Linked DNA regions of Homo sapiens: region 2 is linked to region 1. Evidence: fine-mapped expression QTL. A gene starts in region 1. The other region holds a variant in brackets. All regions are shown on one strand. Distances are from middle to middle. Region 1 holds the start of GPR137 (G protein-coupled receptor 137). Region 2 overlaps LOC102723878 (a long non-coding RNA gene).

What was found. PIP is the estimated chance that this variant, and not a neighbour inherited with it, causes the effect.
Region 2: its variant is fine-mapped to the expression of GPR137 in whole blood (TOPMed, PIP 0.99).

What each region holds. Positions count from the first base shown.
Region 1 is chr11:64,280,710-64,292,162 of GRCh38, reverse strand. It overlaps GPR137 (G protein-coupled receptor 137), which reads right to left and starts at 6,315. Exons shown (of 7, transcript NM_001170880.2): 1 at 5,282-6,315; 2 at 5,149-5,198; 3 at 4,217-4,442; 4 at 3,949-4,098; 5 at 3,695-3,823; 6 at 3,442-3,560; 7 at 2,669-3,126. The coding sequence starts at 5,638. The coding sequence ends at 2,967. BAD (BCL2 associated agonist of cell death) reads left to right here and starts at 7,498. Exons shown (of 4, transcript NM_032989.3): 1 at 7,498-7,532; 2 at 7,787-7,981. The coding sequence starts at 7,795. KCNK4 (potassium two pore domain channel subfamily K member 4) reads right to left here and starts at 861. Exons shown (of 7, transcript NM_033310.3): 1 at 597-861. It overlaps KCNK4-CATSPERZ (KCNK4-CATSPERZ readthrough (NMD candidate)), which reads right to left and starts at 441. Exons shown (of 11, transcript NR_133662.1): 1 at 378-441. RefSeq lists silencers at 6,239-6,978, 7,329-7,618.
Region 2 is chr11:64,323,170-64,332,895 of GRCh38, reverse strand. LOC102723878 (a long non-coding RNA gene) reads left to right here. Exons shown (of 4, transcript NR_188518.1): 3 at 5,360-5,412; 4 at 7,565-7,846. Among named protein-coding and RNA genes, the nearest start is that of PRDX5, 9.9 kb to the right of the region's middle. RefSeq lists enhancers at 1,025-1,074, 1,340-1,862 and a silencer at 7,404-7,556. The variant T/C (reference allele first, on the strand shown) is at 4,879.

The DNA of each region.
Region 1 (11,453 bases):
ATCCCGAGGCTGCAGCGCCGCGCCGCCCCGCTGCACGCACGCACCCCACCTGCACTCTCCGCAGACGCCCCGGCATCCCCGGCCCCCATGGGCGTGCCGGCCGCGCCAGGGCACCCAGAGCCCACGCACACGTGTGTGGACACTAGCGTGCACACGCCAGACAGCAGGGCCACCGCGCAGCGCCCGCAGCTCGCTCCCACCGCCTCCCCCGCGTCCGCACAGCGACGCCTCGGAGCGTGGCGGGCGGCGGGACCGGCGGCCACACCACTCCCGGAGGCGCCCACGCGCGAGAGGTGGGCACCCCGCCCGGCCAGTCGCCCCTGGGGCGTCCCTGCCCCTGAGTCCTGCCCGCGCACCGGAGCCCGCACCGCACTTACTGTCGGCCCCGCTGCGGCTGCGGCTGAGGCCCGGGTTCCAGCACGGCCTCGCCGGTGCCGACTGGGCCGCGGAGGCGGCAGGGGCGGAGCGGGCGGCCGCCGGGGCTGGGACCCCCCTCCCGCCGGCAGAAGCCCCCCTCCTCCCGCGGTTAACCCCTCCGGCGCCGCGCTTCCCTCCGTGCAGCGCCCTCGCCGCCGGCGCCGCCCCAAGCCGTTTACCTGCGGCCGCCTGGCTCCCCACAGCCGGCCAGCCCCGGGAGGTGGGTGGCAGAGGAGCCGGAGAGGGGTTGCAGCAGGGGCCAGCCTTCTAGCCTTGGACCGGAGCCCAGTGTGGCCAGCGGCAGGGCCCCGACCTGGGCATCAGCTGGCCCGTCTCTCCGGACAGGCACCACGCTAATCTGGCATCTCCCAGGCCCATTACCGGATCGGGAAGGGTCCGCAACTCTCCGCCCCTGGGGACAGCCTGGCCCTTGGGCTCAGCACTCATGAGGGAGGGGCTCCGCGGGACAAAGGGGTGGGGGAAACCCGGTGGGGCCACCTGGAATTGGCCGACGTGGAGGTTGGGACCCACCTCTGGGGGAGTTGCTGCTGGAGCACCTCCTGCCCCCACTCCAGGTTTTGGCCCTCTACCTGCTCCCCGGCTATCCCTCCAGGGTGCTCCCTGCCCCAGCTTTTGGTTCTCACTTCCATGCCCAGAAATCAGCCCCGGAAGGCTGTGGCTGAAGCTGCCTGCAGATCCCAGCATGGCACTGGTGCCAGCATCCACTCTCCCACTGCCTGAACACCCAGGCCCTGGCTGGTCCTGAACTTGCCCCGCCCTGTTCTCACCCACTTGACAACCTGTGACCTCTCCAAAGACCCTCTGGTGCCTGCTGGGGTCCTCAGCCCTCATGCTGGATGGCTTTCAGCCTGGGCTTTGAGGCTGACCACCCGCTACTGGTAGGGAACCTGAACAGGTTACCAAACTCTGGAGTCTCCCTGTTCCCACTTACAGAAAAGGGATGATTAATCATCACTTCGGGGTGCTGTTCTGGGCATTAAGGAGGCCAGTGTTTAGAAATCCTCAAAACAGAGCCTGGCACACACAATAAAGTGCCCCACAAACGTTAGCAGTTTTTATTTCAACAAAAAGTGATTGTCCAGCTTCAAGCTGATTCTCTATGAGTCTCAGATGCCCTCTCTGGAGGCCCTGAGGGCCTGGTGCCCAGGATGGTCCCAAGTAAAGGGTTTTGAAGCAGGCCCAGTGATAAGCCAAGGGAACTCTGAAAAGCTGGGACAACCACCTATGTGGGCAGGGGACAGACCCTCCAGCAAAGGACTCCTAGCCATCAGACAGACCTGCCAGGGCCATGGAAGCAGAGGGCAGTGACTATGCTACTAAGGACAGTGGAGAAGAGGGCTAACGGGAGGGCATAGCTAGGGGACCACCTGTACATCTGGGCAAACCCACGCCCTGGTAGGAAGATGGGGGCTGCTCAGTCACTGCGCCAACTCCCCAGCAAGCCCTGGACTAACTCCTGACTCCTAAAGACCAGGTTGGGGTGGTGATAGGGAAACAGGGCCTCCAGAAAGTCTAATCCATTGGGGTTAAGACTCAGAAGCTGCCAGGCATGGTACCTCATGCCTGTAATCCCAGCACTTTGGGAAGCTGAGGTGGGTGGATTGCTTGAGCCCGGGGGTTCGACACCAGCCTGGGCAACATGGTGAAACCCCACCTCTAAAATTAAAAATTAAAAAATTAGTCAGGAATGGTGGCATGTGCCTGTATTCCCAGCTACTCGGGAGGCTGAGGCAGGAGGATTGCTTGAGCCTGGTAGGTTGAGGCTGCAGTGGGCCATGATCGTGCCACTGCACTCCAGTCTGAGTGACAGAGTGAGACCCTGCTTCAAAAAACAAAACAAAACAAAGAACCTCAATGGCCACATAATCAGTAATGTGGAGCTGTGGGGCCCAGCAGAGGGGCCATGTCCCTTGACCAGGAGACAGAAGGCTTCCTAAAGGAGGTAACAGTTGACGCAGGTCTTGAGGAAAGAGTAGCAACTGTTCAAGTGGAGAGGGATCTGGAGGTAGTGGGGCAATTCTGGGCCAGGAGAGCTTTGAGAACAAAGGCCTGTGTGGTCTCCTTCCCTTGCAAACTGCAGGCCCCTCCTCTCCCAGCCCACCAGCCTTGATGGGGTAAGTCACCCCTGCCCAGCCTAGCAGCCCACTTCAAGGGCTAGTGTCTGTTCAGCCTTAGGCCAAACAGGCAAAAGTGATAGGAACACAAGGCAGATGACAGACAGGTGCACAACTGTGGGGCGCAGACACTGTTTATTGAGTGGCAGGCACAGGAGAGGTAGCTGGCTCCGGTGTGGAAGCAGAGGTGGCAGGTCATGCCAGGGTGCTGTGGGCATCTGGCAGCCAGGGCCATGCCCCCCATCCTAGGGGGACGGCACAAGCTCACTATGACAGGAGCAGCAAGGAGCCGGCCAGAGGAGGGGGTAGCCACGACCCCCAGGATCCTGGGCAAGAAGCGGCAGACAAACTTGGCACAGGGGCCTAGGGTGAGGGGGACTGGGGCCTGGGTATTCTGTGGGGGAGGGAGGGGGATCACGTCTGTGGGGTGGAGTAGAGACTGTGGTGGTGGCCGCCTGGTCCTGGCACCTGGGAGAAGAGCAGAGGAGTGGTCTTCGTCTGGCTGCCCCCATACCAGCCCGGCTCACGCCCGATGGCACCATACCAGCTCCCAGAGCCTAGACTGCCCGACATACTGCAGCAGAGAAACAGGGTCAGTCTCAGGACAGTGACCAGGGCCACAGTCACAAGAGCTGCAGGAGGAAGACAGGCTTAGAACAGAACCCCTGTGACCTAGACCTTCGGGGCCCAGGACAAAGTACATCTCTAGGCAAGAGGTGGAGGCTTTAGCAATAGGAACCCAGGGGACCTCACCTAGTACAGATGGGGAAGCAAAGGCCATGGCAGGGGTGGAAGGCAAGACCCGGCTATCTCGGTCCCCCATAGCTTGATGGAGCCAGCGGGGTGGGCGGGTAGGGCAGGGGTACTGAGGCAGTGCCACGGCTCCTACCTGGTGCTCTCACCCCGGCTGTGCTCCCAGGAGCAGCCCTCATCTTCACAGTGCCCAGCCCGGTCAAAGAAGTAGGACCGAGAGGCAAAGACCTGCCCATTGAGGATGTGGCTGGTGCTCTGGGGGAGGAAGCCATCATCGATACTTACTCCTGTCCTGCACTGGCCTCCCAGGCCCAACCCCAGACTCCAACCCAGGATTTGCAACATCCGCCCCCTCCACTGGCCCCACAGAAGAGGGAGCAGACCCTTACCAGGTCCTGTGGGGGCCGGTGCACCCGGAAGAAGCCCACCAGCAGGGTGGTGGGCAGTAGCTCCCACACGAAGAGGATGAGGCCAAATACCAGGTAGCCTTTGTTCCCCAGGTCATTCACCAGGTCCGCCTGTGGGAAGGCAGGGGCTGGTGCCAGTCTGCAGTCACGCCAAAGGGGTAGTGGGACAGGGCCCAGGCCAGCTGGGGCCAAGGTGCCACGGCTACTAAGGAGGTGGCAGACATGCGTATGCCCACCTGGTCAGACACATTGTACCAGTCGTAATCGAAGGTGTCCAGCCGGCTCTGGGGGGCCAAGGCCAGTGCTGTCAGGTTGTAGCAGGCCCGGCTGGCATAGAGCAGGACCATGGCGCCACCCATCGCGGCCGCCTGGCACACACTGGTCCCCTGGCACAGGTAACAACAGAGGACCCTCAGGGAGAGAAGGCTCCCAGCTTCCTCTACACCCTGAGAACCGCTGCCGAGAGACCCAAAAGACACCTGGGCATCAGTGCTGCAGCCCTACCTTGGCCTCCAGGTAGATGCTAGTGGAGGGCGCCCGCCTGGCGACGAGGCAGAGGCAGGCAGCAAGAGACAGCGCGCAGATGACGAACAGGGAGTCGCTCACCAGGACGCGGACAAGCAGCAGGGCCCAGGGCTGTGCCCGGCGCCGATGGGAGAGCACAGCACACAGCACGTTCACCAGCAGAAAGAGCAGCGAGGCCCCCACAAAGGCCCCTCGGACAGCGAGCCTGCAGCCACAGCACAGTCAGCGCGGGCCCTCAACAGCCCTCAGCACTCACCACCTGCCCCACCTCCTGCAGGAAACCCCAATGTCGACAAAACTCAGGGCATCCAGTCTGAGCCCTGTTCCTCCACTCTTACAGATGGAGAAACTGAGGCCCAAAAAGGTCAGAAGGTGACTGACAGCCATGGTACTTCGGAAGGTGCACCAACTGGAGTCAGAAGTCTCTGTCTGAGCCCCAGCTCTGCGACCTTGATCCTGCTGTCTTACCTGGCTGGGCCTCAGTTTCTTCATCTCTCAAGGGAGGATAGTAGCCTCTCAGGGAAATTGTACAAATAAAAGATGGCTGGGAAAGCTCTTTATAAACCGTAAGACACTGTACAAATGACGAGGGCATTGCGGCCCCAGGTCACCCAGGAGTGCATATGGCTTTGGTGCTTCCATGGGCTGGAGCCTCCAGCTCGCCCTCCATGGTGGATGACACTGGGGCCCTCTCCCTCACACTACCACAAGCATTCCTATTCCTGTGCCTTGCAGATCTGCAAGGCCTCTGCTGAGCCATCTGCGCCAGGTGCTTTAACTTTTCCAAGATCTTCCACAGACATTCCCTGGGTTGCCTTTGTCTCAGCCCTGAGAGGTGGGAAGGGATCTACATGGGACTGTCACCTGCCCCTGACCTGGAGGCTGAGCCCACCAGTGTCCCGAGTACTTACAAGCCTCGGCTCATCTCCGGCCGACGCTTCACCTTGGCCTTGAACACCACCTAGGAGCAGAGATGCCCTTCACTCCTGTGGGTCCTTGAGGCTTGCCACCTCCCGCCCCCCACCCGGGACCACAGTTGGTTACCTGGGCAAAGTAGAGGTTCATAAGCGTCAAGGTGAAGAACTGCAGGCAGACGGGGCAGCAGTAGAGAAGCCAGAAGGGCAAGGGCCCCAGGCGGTTGGCGCGGGGAGTATCTCGGAAGTAGAAGGAGAAGAGGGTGGTACGCAAGGCGGCCCAGAGCAGACAGAGGGCCAGGAACACCGTCTGATAGCTGAGACGCTTGTGCCCATACAGAAGCACCAGCCAGAGCTGGGCATAGACGGAGAAGAAGAGCAGGGCATACAGGGTGGTGTAGGCAGCTGTCAGCCCCAGGGTCACAGCAGGTGGCAGCGCAGGCACCAGCCCGGCAGCAGGCACCAGGCCAGACAGGTTACTCTCCATGTCAGGGAGGGAGGCCTGAATCCCGGAGACAGACAAGGAGGGACTGTCGGCGGGACCAGGGAAATAAATACGGAGGGGTGGGAATTGCAGGGTGCAGAGAGGGAGATGGGGCGCTCAGGAGGAAAGAAGTTGTGGCTGACAGGCCCCTCCTCCTCAACAGAGAGACCCTTGCCCTTGGGGAACACAGGCAGCCTGGGCCCCAGGCCCCTCACTCAGGGGCATGGAAGGGCAGTCTCTTTTCTCCAGGACAGACCGGATAGGGGTTGGGGGTGTCTCCTCCCTGGGCCTACCCCAGAGCCAAGGATGGGGGGATGCAGAGGCCCAAGGAGAGGACTCCCTGGCCTCGGTCGTTCATGTCGTCCTGGGTGGAGGGGGAGAGCCGGCTGATACCCGTCGGGTCAGGGCAGCGGCCGCTGCGAGGGGCGCCCAATGCCCCGCTCTCCCCCTCCCCAAGCTGGGGGAGGCTCTCTCTCCTCCAATAATGCGGATGGGGAGGGCCTCTGCCTCCTGTCCTCGTAATTCTCGAAAGCTGCCCCCGCCCCACCCTCCCCCACCGCGTCCACGCTCCAGCCTCAAGGGGAGGGAGGAGGCGGACGCCAGGTCCTCAGGCCGCTGATGGGAGAGCCGGCTCAGGTCGTGGGGACCCGGGGCTCCGGCTCCCCGGCTCCCGCTGCTCCGCCCCCCTCCCCCTCCGCGCCTGCGCGGGCGCCGTTCGCTACGCAAATTGCGCAGCGGCCCGGCTGGCTCCGCAGTCCAGCGCCGCACCCGGCGTGAAACCGTACGAGAATTGGCGCGAGCTGCGCCGCTGGCGGGCGCCCGGGGTTACGGGAGGCGGCAGGAGGGCGGCCGAGTTGCGGGGGCCGTGCCGCATCCAGGGGGTCCCCGGGTGGGCCGTGCCCCGTGCCGCCCGCCTTTACTTGTATGGGGGTCCGCCAGTTCCCACGCTCCTCTCTCCTATACCCAAATCGGGGTCGTGCCGCCCGGCCGGGGGCGGCAACGGATTCCCGTCCCTCGGTCTCTGAAGAAAACTTCCGCCCATAGCCAAGATGGCCCCCGGGCCCCGCCCCCGGGCCTGAACCCGCGGAGCCCCGAATCCCCCGCGCGGGCCCGCCCCTCGCCCCGGCGCGCCCGCGGCCCTGCTCACCTGGCCGGCCGCCTGCCAGGCGTGAAGCCCCCACGGGCCCTACGGTCCTCCCTCACCGGGTCCCCGGCCCTCCTCCCGCGCCCGGGCAGCCATCCCAGCCAGGGAGGAGGTTCCTTTCCTTATCTCCAGTGCCCCCGAGATGGCGCGGGAGGTGTCCCCCGAGGCGGGCGGCGCGAAGCTTCCGCGCCTGGGAGGAGGAGCGGGGAGCGGGACTTTCCGACCGGGCACCCAGTCCAGGCGGAGCGGTAACAATAGCAACAATAATCACATCCGACGGCTGAGCTTCAGTTGTGGCTGTGCCAAGCGCCTTCGCCCGCAGTAATCACTCCCTTCACAAAGTTTTCACTGGCTCCCGGGGGAGCTGTCACTATCCCCACTTCACTGGGGGGAAACTAAGGCCCAGAGGGGCTGAAGGACTTGTTGGCAGAAGTGGGTCTCCAGGTTCCAAATGGGGACCCCAGAGAATCCCTCTCCTGCTCCCACACACGCCCAAGGTGTGAGGCAGCGAGGATGTGAGCCCCGGGGCCGAAGGAGGGAGGAAAAAGGATGCGGACGAGGAGCCTTGGATCCGGCGGGGGGGCGGGGCCGGGCCGGGTTGACCCCGCCTCTGGACCTACCCGAGTGACGTTCCGAGAGGTGATTGGGCCAGGTCGCTGACAGTTCCCGTTGCCCAAGCAACTAGGGCCCGGAGCCCGGGGTGCTGGAGGGAGGCGGCAGGCCCGGGTCAGGGGCCTCGAGATCGGGCTTGGGGTGAGACCTGTGCGCCGTCACCACGGGCGGGGCGGGGCCTGGGTCCACCGGGGTTCTGAGGGGAGACTGAGGTCCTGAGCCGACAGCCTCAGCTCCCTGCCAGGCCAGACCCGGCAGACAGATGAGGGCCCAGGAGGCCTGGCGGGCCTGGGGGCGCTACGGTGGGAGAGGAAGCCAGGGGTACCTGCCTCTGCCTTCCAGGGCCACCGTTGGCCCCAGCTGTGCCTTGACTACGTAACATCTTGTCCTCACAGCCCAGAGCATGTTCCAGATCCCAGAGTTTGAGCCGAGTGAGCAGGAAGACTCCAGCTCTGCAGAGAGGGGCCTGGGCCCCAGCCCCGCAGGGGACGGGCCCTCAGGCTCCGGCAAGCATCATCGCCAGGCCCCAGGCCTCCTGTGGGACGCCAGTCACCAGCAGGAGCAGCCAACCAGCAGCAGCCATCATGGAGGTAAGTACCCCACCACCTCCACCTGCCGGGACACCTCACCCCCAGCCCACTGGCTCCCTGCATCCCAGTTGCATCCACAGGCACTGAATGCTTTGGGTCGGTCCCCAAACTCTCAGAGCCCCAGTTTCCTCTTTCGTAAAACAGCAATTAATAACCACCATTGTAGGACTGTTGAGTTAATTAGCAGGAACATATAGGATGCACTTGATTACAGAGCTGGTGCACATTAAAGCTAAAAAATGGTTGCTGCCGGGCGTGGTGGCTCACACCTGTAATCTCAGCACTTTGGGAGGCCAAGGCAGGAGGATCGCTTGAGCCCAGAAGTTCAAGGCCAGCCTGAGTGACTTAGGGAGACTCCAGCTCTTAAAATACATATATATATATATAGCAGCTATTAGTGTGGGGTTAGGACAGAAATCAGTGACAGGCAGGCAGTGATCCGAAAAGGAAAAGGGGCCTGCCTAAGGCCACACCTTCCTGGTGTTTCTTTCCTTAGAATGTGGGGGCTGGAAGCCTCCTTGGTGCCCTGCCCCAGGCTACATGCTTTCCCTGGGATTAGGCCTTCCAGCTCCCAGATGTGTTCTTTCTTGCCCTGTGGCTCGTACCCACAGCAGGACTGTCCTGGCACAGTGGCCAGGGGCAGATGACCTCAAGGGGCAGACAGTCCTCCCAGACAGCAGGGCTGTGTGGGGTGAGAAGCACAGGCTCCAAGATGGAAGGATGGACACTGGGGTTCTATGTCCATTTCTCAGTAGGCTCTAGCACCCCTGTGCCCAGCACTGGCCTTGGCACCTGGAACAACAACAGATATCTTCTGAACACAAAAACCAGGTCAAGCTGGGTGGGGTGGCACATGTCTGTAGTCCCAGCAACTCAGGAGGCTGGCTTGAGCCCAGGAATTCAAGACCAGCCTGGGCAACATAGCCAGACCCCATCTCTAAAAATAGAAAACTAGGTCATGTCACTCTGGCACTGCAGCTTAAAAGACCTCCTCCCCATTTTCAGGATTAAGAAGGCTTAAGAGGCCTCTTTCCCCTCGCTCTCTTACGGATAAACACCCACACTCGATTCTCTCAGATTGGACCCCATAGCTTGCTTTCTTTTTTTCTGTTTGTTTTGTTTTGTTTTGAGACAGGGTCTCGCTCTATCACCCAGGAGGGAGTACAGAGGTGCGATCTCAGCTCACTGCAGCCCGGAACTTCTGGGCTTAAGTGATCCTCCCACGTAACTGGGAATACAGGTGTGTGGACCACACCCAGTTAATTTATTTTTTACTTTTTCTTTTTTTTTTTTTTTTTTTCCTGAGACGGAGTCTCACTCTGCTGCCCAGGCTGGGGTGCAGTGGTGCAATCTCGGCTCACTGCAACCTCTGCCTCCTGGGTTCAAGCAGTTCTCCTGCCTCAGCCTCCAGAGTAGCTGGGACTACAGGCGCGTGTCACCATGCCGGGCTAATTTCTTGTATTTTTATTAGAGATGGGGTTTCACCGTGTTAGCCAGGGTGGTCTCCATTTCCTGACCTCGTAATCCACCCGCCTCAGCCTCCCAACAGTGTTGGGATTACAGGCGTGAGCCACCATGCCCAGCATTTTTCACATTTTCATGAGATGAGGGCAGGGGCGGGGTCTCCTTTTGTTGCCCAGGCAGGCCTCAAACTCCTGGGCTCAAACGATCCTCCTGCCTCAGCCTCCAGAACAGCTGGGACCACAGGTGCATGCCACCACACCAGCTCATTTTTTATTTTTTGTAGAGGTGGGGTCTTGCTTTGTTGCCCAGTCTTGTCTCGAATTCCTGGGCCCAAGCAATCCTCTCACCTTGGCCTCCCAGACTGTTGAGATTACTGGCGTGAGCCACCATGCTCAGCCTCCACAGCTTTCTTTAACTTCCTGAGCTTGCACTTGGCCATTTTTCTGCTCACAAACTTCCCCTGCTCTCTGCCCCCCACACACACTCAGCATTCACTCGCGCCACACAGTGAGTGCTCACCGTGTGACACAGGCTGTTCCAGTTGCTAGGGGGCCTCGGTGAACCCAAGCGTCAGGAATCCTTGCCCTTGTGGAGCTTACCTTCTAGTGAGCTGGTGGGGCCATGAGCAAACAAGCACAAAAGCATCCTATCATGCGTGAGAAGATTTGTATGGGGGCAGCATGTAAAAGAGTTAAGAGAGGCCGGGCGCGGTGGCTCACGCCTGTAATTCCAACACTTTGGGAGGCCTAGGTGGGCGTATCACAAGGTGAAGAGATGGAGACCATCCTGGCCAACATGGTGAAACCCCATCTCTACCAAAAATACAAAAATTAGCTGGGCATGGTGGCGCGCACCTATAGTCCCAGCTACTCGGGAGGCTGAGGCAGGAGAATCGCTTGAACCCGGGAGGCGGAGGTTGCAGTGAGCCAAGATCGTGCCACTGCACTCCAGCCTGGCGACAGAGTGAGACTCATCTCAAAAAAAAGAGTTAAGAGAATCCGGAGTCACAGGGGCGGGGGGAGTGATGGTAGCAGAGGTGGTCAGCACTCACCTTGGTGAGAAGCACCACTGGAGCCAAGGCCACAGGGATGATGGGAAGAGAGTTCCAGGCAGAGAGAAGGGCAGATGGTAAGGCCTCGAGGGCAACACCTGCTCCTGGCTAGGGTGGGCCTAGGGGAGGGGGTTTAGGAAAGGGTATTTGGAGACCTAAAGTTGAAGGTCATTCTAAGGACTCTGGCATTGCCTTTGAGTAAAAACCTGGAAAGGATTTGAGCAGAGGCAGCATGGTCAGATTTAGACATTCAGAGAGTCACCAGGGAGGTGGTGAGAAGTAGCTGATCCCTGGATTTATTTTTAAAGCAGAACTGGCAGGATCTGCTGATGGACTGGATGTGGGGTGCGAGGGAAAGAGAGGAGTCAGGATGATGCCAAGGAATTTTAAAAAAACTATTAGGCTGGGCGCGGTGGCTCACGCCTATAATCCCAGCACTTTGGTAGTTCGAGGTGGGCAGATCATGAGGTCAGGAGATAGAGACCATTCTGGCTAACACGGTGAACCCCGTCTCCACTAAAAATACAAAAAATTCTCTGGGCGTGGTGGTGGGCGCCTGTAGTCCCAGCTACTCTGGAGGCTGAGGCAGGAGAATGGCGTGAGCCCGGGAGGCGGAGCTTGCAGTGAGCAGAGATTGCACCACTGCACTCCAGCCTGGGTGACAGAGCAAGATTCCGTCTCAAAAAAAAAATTATTATTGGCCGGGCGTGGTGGCTCACACCTGTAATCCCAGCACATCGGGAGGCTGAGGCAGGCAGATCACTTGAGGTCAGGAGTTCAAGAACAGCCTGGCCAACTTGGTGAAATCCTGTCTCTACTACAAATACACAAATTAGCTGGATGTGGTGGTGGGCGCCTGTAATCCCAGCTACCTGAGAGGCTGAGGCAGGAGAATCACTTGAACCCAGGAGGTGGAGGTCGCAGTGAGCTGAAATCCTGCCACTGCACTCCAGCCTG
Region 2 (9,726 bases), 42 kb before region 1:
AGGCGTGCGCCACTACACCTGGCTAATTTTTGTATTTTTAGTAGAGACGGGGGTTTCACCACGTTGCAGGCTGGTCTGGAACCCCTGACCTCTCAGGTGATCCACCCGCTTCAGCCTCCCAAAGTGCTGGGATTACAGGTGTGAGCCACCACTCCCGGCCTGGGTTCGAATTTTTTAGCTAGCTCTGGTTCAGTCTCAAAGGCCAGAAGCAGGAGGGCTCTGGGGTTTGGGCGGAAGGGGAAGCCAAGGAGGCCAGGGCAGGTGGGGGCCCAGATCCAGCAAGAGCCCTGAGCCAACCAGAGCCAGGTCAGAGTGAGGCTTTCTCCCTGCTGCAGGCAGCCCCGGAGCTCCGCCTGGCACCCCAGCGGCCTGGCTGGGGCCCAGCTCTCTAAGCAGATAATTCAGGGCCCCAGTCTCAAAAAACAAAAAACAGCCTCCAAAGCCTTCTGGGCAGCTGACCCTCTGTTGCTAGATCTTCGGGGTCCCCCTCCTTCCCACCCAAGTGTCTGAGAAGGGGTCGTCTCCCCACCCACCACTTGAGGGTGAAATAGTGGAGGTGGAGTTAGCAGTAATGCCCAGGGGAGTGGTCCCAAAGAGCTACCCAGGTGGCAGGAGGCAGTGGGAAGCCAGAGCCAGGAAGGGTGGGGCCCAGGGCCATTTGCCCAGTGCCCGTCCAGGTGCCCCGTGACTCAGAGTGCAGCCTGCGCGGCCTGGGGTCCCGCTACTGTAGAGTGAGGCCCGGCCCAGCCCCCACTACCTGACACCAGGCCGGCTCTCCCTTCCTGTTCTCCCCGGGCACTCCCATGCTCCAGGGGGGCACTTGCTGTGCCTCACCCTGTGCCTCCAAGCCATGCTGGGGTGCAGGCACGAATCCTCCTCCAGGGGGCATCCACCCAGCACTGAAGGAGTCATTCAGAAACTGCCTGGCTCACGGCCATGCCGGGCTTAAAGCTCTCCAGTGGCTTCTCCCTGAGTTGACTCAGCAGCTCACCATGACCTTCAAGGCCGTGGAGAGGTGCCGCCTCACCACCCTGACCTCATCCTTCCTCCTCTCCTCCACTCTGGCCACGCTGGTTCCTCAATCGCTCTCCCCCACTCGGCACCTTTGCATCGCCGACCACTCAACTTGGAGCTCAACATGTCTGAGTCACACACTCCCCAACTCCCTACACACACACATTCACACATGCTCACACGCATGCACATTCACACATGCTTACACACATTCACACATGCTCACACACATTCACACACACACACGCACACACACACACACCCTTTCCCCTTATCCCATACTGGTCTCTCAAATGTCCCTTTCTCAGAAAAGTCCTTTCATGACCTGGCATGGTAGCTCACACCTGTAATCCCAGCACTTTGTGAGGCTGAGGCAAGAGGATTGCTTGAGCCCAGGGGTTCAAGACCAACTTGGACAACATGGTGAGACCTCATCTCTACAAAAAAATCCAAAAATTAGCCTCACATGATGGAGCACACCTGTCATCCCAGCAACAAGGGAGGCTGAGGCAGAAGGATCACTTGAGCCCAGGAGTTCAAGGCTACAGTGAGCTGTGATCACACCACTGCACTCCAGCCTGGGTGACAAAGTGAGACCCTGTCTCAAAAAACAAAAGAAAAGAAAAGTCCTTTCTCTTGTAAAGCAGCCCCCATCCTCCTCCCACAGCAGGGTTCCACTCCATGCACCCGGCACCTTCGCGTGCTTGCTTTGCCTGCTCCCCTGTCAAGTGGAAGCCATCATGGGCTCACCCATGACTGCAGTGCAGAGAGCGCAGTGCTGAGCCCACTGGGTCCATGAGAGCACCGATGTCCGCTGCCCACTGATCTCTGCTGGGCTCCATTCTAAGCACTTCCCACATCTCAATCACTTAATCCCCTCCTCAGCTGCAAAATACAGGAGCTGGCCGGGCGCGATGGCTCACACCTGTAATCCCACCACTTTGGGAGACCGAGGTGGGCAGATCACAAGGTCAGGAGATCAAGACCACGGTGAAATCCCGTCTCTACTAAAAATACAAAAAAAAAAAAAAATTAGCCGGGCACGGTGGCGGGCACCTGTAGTCCCAGCTACTCGGGAGGCTGAGGCAGGAGAACGGCGTGAACCCGGGAGATGGAGCTTGCAGTGAGCCGAGATTGCGCCACTGCACTCCAGCCTGGGCGACAGAGAGACTCCATCTAAAAAAAAAAAAAAAAAAATGCAGGATCTATTGGTTATCCCCACTTTACAATGAAAAAAATTGATGCCCAGAGAGGTTAAGTCACTTGCTTAAGGCCACACAGCCAGGAAGTGGCAGAGCCAAGATACTGAAGGCAGTTTTTTTTTTTTTTTATGTTTTTGAACAAATGAACTCTTATTTCAGAGGCCAGGAAAGTGCAGCTCAGAAGGGAATGGGGGCAAGTAGGGCAGCTGAGGCTGAAATCTCAGTCCTCCTCTGGCGCTAAGAGCTCGCAGTCTCCCAGCCCCACTCTACCCACAACCCCACCCCACCCTCCACCCCCTGCTCCCCGCCACCTCCTCCACTCCATTCCTTTGTATTTTGTTTTGTTTTGTTTTGTTTTGTTTTGTGTTTTTGGAGACAGAGTCTTGCTCTTACCCAGGCTGGAGTGCAGTGGCTCGATCTCAGCTCACTGCAACCTCTGCCTCCTGGGTTCAAGCAATTCTCCTGCCTCAGCCTCCCACATAGCTGGGATTACAGGCAAGCGCCACTACGACCGGCTAATTTTGTATTTTTAGTAGAGACAGGGTTTCTCCATGTTGGTCAGGCTGGTCTCGAACTCCCGACCTCAGGTGATCCACCCGCCTCGGCCTCCCAAAGTGCTGGGATTACAGGCGCGAGCCACTGCACCCGGCTCCACTCCACTCCTTGTTGCTGTCGGGTGGGACAGCAAGGCTGGAGCCCAGCATCCAATTAGGAAACAAGGTGGAAATCCAGGGCCAAGCCCCATGGCTGCCAGTTGCCCTCGTAATTAAAGACACACACATTAAAGACAGCTCCGAGGTGCCATTAAACATCCATTAAACTGGCAAAAAATAAATCCAAAAGGTAAAACTCAACTCTAGTTGGCAACTGCAGCAGAGAACACAGCACAGGTCACAGGTGGCTCAGAGGCAACAGCCCTCACACCTGGCTCCCTGTCCCTGCCCTGAATTGTTCCATGTGGGAACTGGGCCACACTGGTCAGCTTCATCAAAGATAGATTTGCCAAATTGGCATACAATTCACATGTCATAAAATTCACTCTCTAAAAGCGTACAAGTCAGCACGGTCTCAGAATTTCCTGAGACCAATAAAACCTCCGGAGCCCTTTGACCCAGCACTCCAGCGTTTGGGAATAAGCCCTGTAGAAGGAGCCCAAGAGGAAACAAAAATAGAAGTGTGTCCAAAGCTGGAAGCTGCCCCAGCCAAACACTGGAAACACCCAGCTCTCCACCAAGATAAACCACGCGAGCCACAGCTTGCGGGCAATATCCCATCTCCATCCTCACCACTGCTCAGCCCAGACCTCCCTCATCTTCCTGGCCTGCAGACCTTAGCAGTGGCTGTTCCCACCCCTGGAACACCCTTCCCACCTGGTACCTGATGCCTGCAGGGCCCATGCACGGCATATTCACTGCTGTATCCCCAGAGCCTCGCACAGTGCCTGGTGCAGAGATGATTTTCAGCAAAGAGGCACTGAAGGGAAGATACCTATGTGACTGTGAGGAGACACAGGTGAGCAAGTGGAACCTCTGAACACCTGATTGGGCCACTCATAATGACATGAGAATTGCAATGCTCAGAGGAGAAAAGCAGCTTCTTTTGGTGAGAAGTCACTGAGATTAAAGATCTGTCTTAGGGTCGGGCATAGTGTCTCATGCTTGTAATCCCAGCACTTTGGGAGGCCAAGGCAGGAGGATCACTTGAGCAGAGGAGTTTGAGACCAGACCAGGCAACACAGAGAGACTTTGTCTCTACCAAAAAAAATCAAAAATTATCTGAGCATGGTGGTTCATGCCTGTAGTCCCAGTTACTAGGGAGACTGAGGCAGGAAGATCACTTGAACCCAGGAGGTAGAGGCTGGTGGTGAGCCGAGATCGTGCCACTGCACTCCAGCCTGGGTGACAGAAGGAGACCCTGTCTCAAAAAAAAAAAAAAAAAAAAAAGGCCGGGAGGCCTTTGGGAGGCCAAGGCGGGCGGATCACGAGGTCAGGAGATCGAGACCATCCTGGCTAACACGGTGAAACCCCGTCTCTACTAAAAATACAAAAAATTAGCCGGGCATGGTGGCGGGCGCCTGTAGTCCCAGCTACTCAGGAGGCTGAGGCAGGAGAATGGCATGAACCCGGGACGCGGAGCTTGCAGTGAGCCGAGATTGTGCCAGAGCAAGACTCCATCTCAAAAAAAAAAAAAAAAAAGATCCGCCTGTGCCTTAGTGGTGATGGTTGCACAACTCGGTGAATATATTGAAAACAACCGACTTGTACACTTTAAAAAAAAAAAAGAGACAAGGTCTCATTATATTGCCCAGACTGGTCTCAAACTCCTGGACTCAAGTAAGCATCCCCCTTCACCCCCACAAAGTGCTGGGATTACAGGCATGAGCCACCATGTCTAGCCTTTGTACAATTTTACAGGCTGAATTTTATGATATGTGAATTGTATGTCAATTTGGCAAATCTATCTTTGATGAAGCCGAACCATGTGGCTCAGTTCCCGCAGAAACTAATTCAGGAAAGGGACAGGGAACCAGGAAAGAGGGCTGTTGTCCTCAGCAGTGAAACTGACTTGGGGCCCTGAAGGTTAGAGTGATCTGGGCAGGGGCATCCCAGCGGGGAACATTGTCTGGTAGATGCTGAAAGGGAAGAGATTGGAGGACCCACAA[T/C]TGGGAATCAGGGTGACTTTGGTGACCAAGGTTGCAGGGAATGGGGACAGAGGCTTGGAGAGAAGTCACTGGGGAGATGAGGGGACCACACGTGGATCTGGGCCAGCTTCGTATTAACCATGCCCTTCCATGGCTGACAGGAAAGGCAGGGAAGTGGGCATCTCCTGGGAAGCATGGAACCTCAAAGGTCCCTCTTCTCAGAGGTGATCCCTGTGTGGCCACACTGCTTGCTGTCCACCCAATATCCTTTCTCTCTCTCTCCCTGACTAAAAAAACTCATAATTTTTAATTTAGACACATGGCACCCTGGAATGAAGTTGATACTTCTCAGCTTCCTTTGCAGCTAGTATGACCATGTGACTAAGTTCTGTCCAGTGAGATGTAAGTGGAAGGGATATATGACAGCTTCCAGAAAAAGCTTCTTGACAGACAGCTGGCATGGGCCTTTTATCTTCTGTTCTTCATTTCCTCCTTCCTGCAGGCTGGACGATGAATGTGATGGCTGGAACTCAAGCAGCCACAGTGGATCATAAGGTAAAGACGTGTTTAAAATGGCAGAGCAGCAAGACAGAAGGAATAATCACACAGCTAGCATACTAGCTCAACCTCTCTAGTGCATACCTGTGAGCTAAGCCTTTGTTTTTTTGTTGTTGTTGTGTTGTTTTGTTTTGAGATGGAGTTTTGCTCTTGTTGCCCAGACAATGGCACAATCTCGGCTCACTGCAATCTCCACCTCCCAGGTTCAAGCGATTCTCCTGCCTCAGCCTCCTGAGTAGCTGGGATTACAAGCATGCACCACCACGCCCTGCTAATTTTGTATTTTTAGTAGAGACGGGGTTTCTCCATGTTGGTCAGGCTGGGCTCGAACTCCGGACCTCAGGTGATCCGCTCACCTCTGCCTCCCAAAGTGCTGGGATTACAGGCGTGAGCTACCACGCCTGGCCTTCACTTCTTTACTCCTTCCCAAAACGTGTTAAGTATTATCTGTGTTTCCCACCCTGAGCAGGGCTCCTTACCTGTGTTAAGTAAAAAGACATGATTCCCAACTCCAGGAGTGCGAGTTGATGATACAAATATAATCACATGGCAGGCCAATATGCATGCTCGTTAACACCAAGAATCTGTGCCTTCGCATAGATGTTACCTGAACTTCTCCAGAAGTTATACCCATGCACACTTTGCACTATCTGCTGTCACTTCTCAATGCCTGTGTCACCAAACCCCAACCACGCCCAGTAGAGTGTGTCCCTTTGGGGCCAGCAGCCTCCACTGCCCCTGATCACAGCACCTTCATGGCTGCAGCCCAAGCCTGATCTAGGCCAGGAACACCAGGACCCCTCCAACCTTTTCTTTGTCTCAGAAACCCAGACTTGACTCCCTTAGGGCCTATTGAAAACTCCCCCGATAGGCCAGGCGCGGTGGCTCACACGTATAATCCCAGCACTTTGTGAGGCTGAGGCGGGCAGATCACGAGGCCAGGAGTTCAAGACCAGCCTGGCCAACATAATGAAACCCCATCTCTACTAAAAAATACAAAAAGTAGCCGGGCATGGTGGCACGCGCCTGTAGTCCCAGTTACTCAGGAGGCTGAGGCACAAGAATCGCTTGAACCCGGGAAGCGGAGGTTGTGGTGAGACTCATTCTGTTGCCCAGGTTGGAGTGCAATGGCGTGATCTCGACTCACTGCAACCTCTGCCTCCCAGGTTCAAGTAATTCTCCTGTCTCAGCCTCCCAAGTAGCTGGGACTACAGGCATGGCACCACCATGCCTGGCTAATTTTGTATTTTTAGTAGAGATGGGGTTTCACCATGTTGGCCAGGCTGGTCTCAAACTCCTGACCTCAGGTGATCCGCCCACCTCAGCCTCCCAAAGTGCTAGGATTACAGGCGTGAGCCACCATGCCTGGCCTGATTTTTATCTTTCAAATAACCTTTTATTGAGCCTTTTTTTTTTTTTTTTTTTTTTGAGGCAGGGTCTTGCTCTATTACCCAGGCTGGAGTGCAGTGGCATAATCATAACTCACTGCAGTCTTGGCCTCCTGGGCTCAAGTGATTTTCCCAACTCAGCCTCTGGAGTAGCTCGAACTATAGGCACGTGCTACCACACCCACCCAATTATTTTATTTTTTTGGTAGAGACGGGGTGTCACTAATTTATTTTTATTTAGTTGTTTTTGTTTTGGGTTTTTTTTTTTTTGAGACAGAGTTTGGCTCTTGTTGCCCAGGCTGGAGTGCAGTGGTGAGATCTTGGCTCACCAAAACCTCCGCCTCCCAGGTTCAAGTGATTCTTCTGCCTCAGCCGCCCGAGTAGCTGGGATTACAGGCATGAGCCACCACACCTGGCTAATTTTGTATTTTTAGTAGAGACGGGGTTTCTCCATGTTGGTTAGGCTGGTCTCGAACTCCCGACCTCAGGTGATCCGCCCACCTCAGCCTCCCAAAGTGCTGGGATTATAGGTGTGAGCCACCACACCCGGCCTATTTTTATTTTTTTAGAGACAAGGTCTCGCTCTGTCACCCAGGCTGGAGGGTAGTGGCACGATTATAGCTCACTAACTGTAGTTAGTCACCAACTCCTGGTGTCAAGCGATCCTCCCGCCTCAGCCTCCTGAGTAGCTACGACCACAGGCATGCACTACGACAACTTATTTATATATTTACTTATTTATTTATTTATTTATTTTGTAGGGACGGTGTCTTGCTATGTTGTCCAAGCTGGTCTCAAACTGGCCTGAATCAATGCTTCCACCTCAGCTGCCAGAGGAACCGGGATTACAGGCCTGAGCCACTGCAGCCAGCCAGTTTGTTATTTTAATGTAAATTCTTAGTAAACAACTCAGGAGCTCTCTTGTCCTTTTAAAATCCATTTCAACTTCTGCTAATCGGAGTGTATATTCAGGGCAACTTGAATCTGTGCTCCTGGGATGCAATCCTCAAGCTTGGCCCAAATAAAGTCTCCGCTGATATTAATTTTGCCTAGGCTTCTTCCTTTTAGGTCAACACTCTTCAGGCTCATGTTGGGGTCTGTTCAGCTGCGTTTCAAAGGGACTCTAGACCCAGGAAGGCCCAGAACCACTGATGCTGAGTAACACCCTTGGCCTTCTGGTCTCAGTTGCTATGGCCTTGGGCATGCTAGGACAGGCAAGTGAGTTTCACTGGGGCATGTGTTGTTGGGTGGATGTTTCAGCTTCTTTTCTTTTTTTTTTTTTTTTTTTTTTTTTTGAGACAGACTCCTGCTCTGTCTCCCAGGCTGGCATGCAGTGGCACGATCTCGGCTCACTGCAACCTCCACCTCCCAGGTTCAAGCAATTCTCCTGCCTCAGCCTCCCTCCCCAGTAGCCGGGATTACAGACATGCGCCACCATGCCCAAGTAATTTTTGTATTTTTAGTAGATATGGGATTTCTCCATGTTGGCCAGGCTAGTCTCAAACTCCTGACCTAAAATGATCCACCCGCCTTGGCCTCCCACGGTGCTGGGATTACAGGTGTAAGCCACCCCGCCTGGCCTGTTATGTTTTTTAACATTGGTCTTTCGGCCACCAAGAGCCCAGGAAGGCCACACGCACAGCTCTGCCAGGTGCAGCCCAGATGTCCAGGGCTCTCTGGTCCAGGACACCGTGGCCTGGTCTGCCCTTATCTCCAGGCCTGAAGCCCCACCTGTCCAACCTGGAGACAGCTATGCAAGGTTCTCTTGCCAGGTGCTGTTTAATCTTGGGCCCTCCAGGGCCTGGAGCAGCTTCCAGGGCCAGTCCTCCGTGCCCCCACCCAAGGACGTCCTCACTCCAGCAAGCTCAGCCACATGCTCAGCAGTCAGGGCCACTGAGGCCACAGCCCCACCGCCACCCACACCAGGCTGTCCTAGAGGGCCACCCCAGCCCTGGAAGCCCTCTCAACCCTTCCTAGAGGCCCAGCCAGTGGCAACAGACCTTGGAGGGGACACTTCCTCTAGAGGCCTTGCTTGGCCTCAGCCAGCCCAGATAATAGCCCAGGAGCAGAGGAAACAGGCAGCAGAGTGACAGAGACGGAGCTGGGCTTCCCCGATAGCAGGGAGCTGCCTGGGTAGCGTGGGGTGCACAGCCAGTGGGGTGGGCTATTTGCTACCACCACCCCCTATTTACTAATGGAGACACTCATTAGCTCACAGGTGCCCTGTAGGAAGCTCCACGTCTGTTTTCTCATTTGTATGATGAGAGGATAAAGAGGTGGTATCCGGGAAAGAAAGGGGCTTTGTGTTATGCGTGTCCATGAGGACAACACTGTACCCCCGAGTTTGGCAGGAGAGGAGAGGCAGGCAGTTTACCAGGGCAGCTCGAGGTGCAGTCAGCCTCCTTCCCTGCCCCCACCTGGGACCCCTGAAGGGGTGGCAGGTTGTGGGAGAGAACCACAGTGACAGAGGTTGGTGGGCAGCACGACTCGGGTAGGCTGAGCACCTGCAACCCTGGGCAGGGAGGCTGGCTCCCCTCCTACTGAGTGTCTGTTCTCACAGACGTGACCACAAGCACCCAGCCCCTCCACCTTCAGCAAGCAGCTCCCTGGATGCACCCTCCCTCCCAACACATCTCCACCTCCACCTCCTGGGCATTGCTGTCATCATGGGTCCTGCTCCCTGCTGCCCATCTGGTGCCTCTCCCAGCCTCCCAGCTTGGGGGCTGCACACGGTAGCCCATGGCCAAGGTGCCTGTAGGGTGGAAGGCAAGCTGCTCATCAGCTTCAGAGAGCCCACTGACCTCCAGGCATCCTCTCTTGTCCCCAACATTCCCCCCCTACTCCTGCTACCCACCTTGCTGCGGCAGCATGGGATTGTCCCACCCTCCACCCCTAGGGCTATGGGGCTCACCCCTAGGGCTAT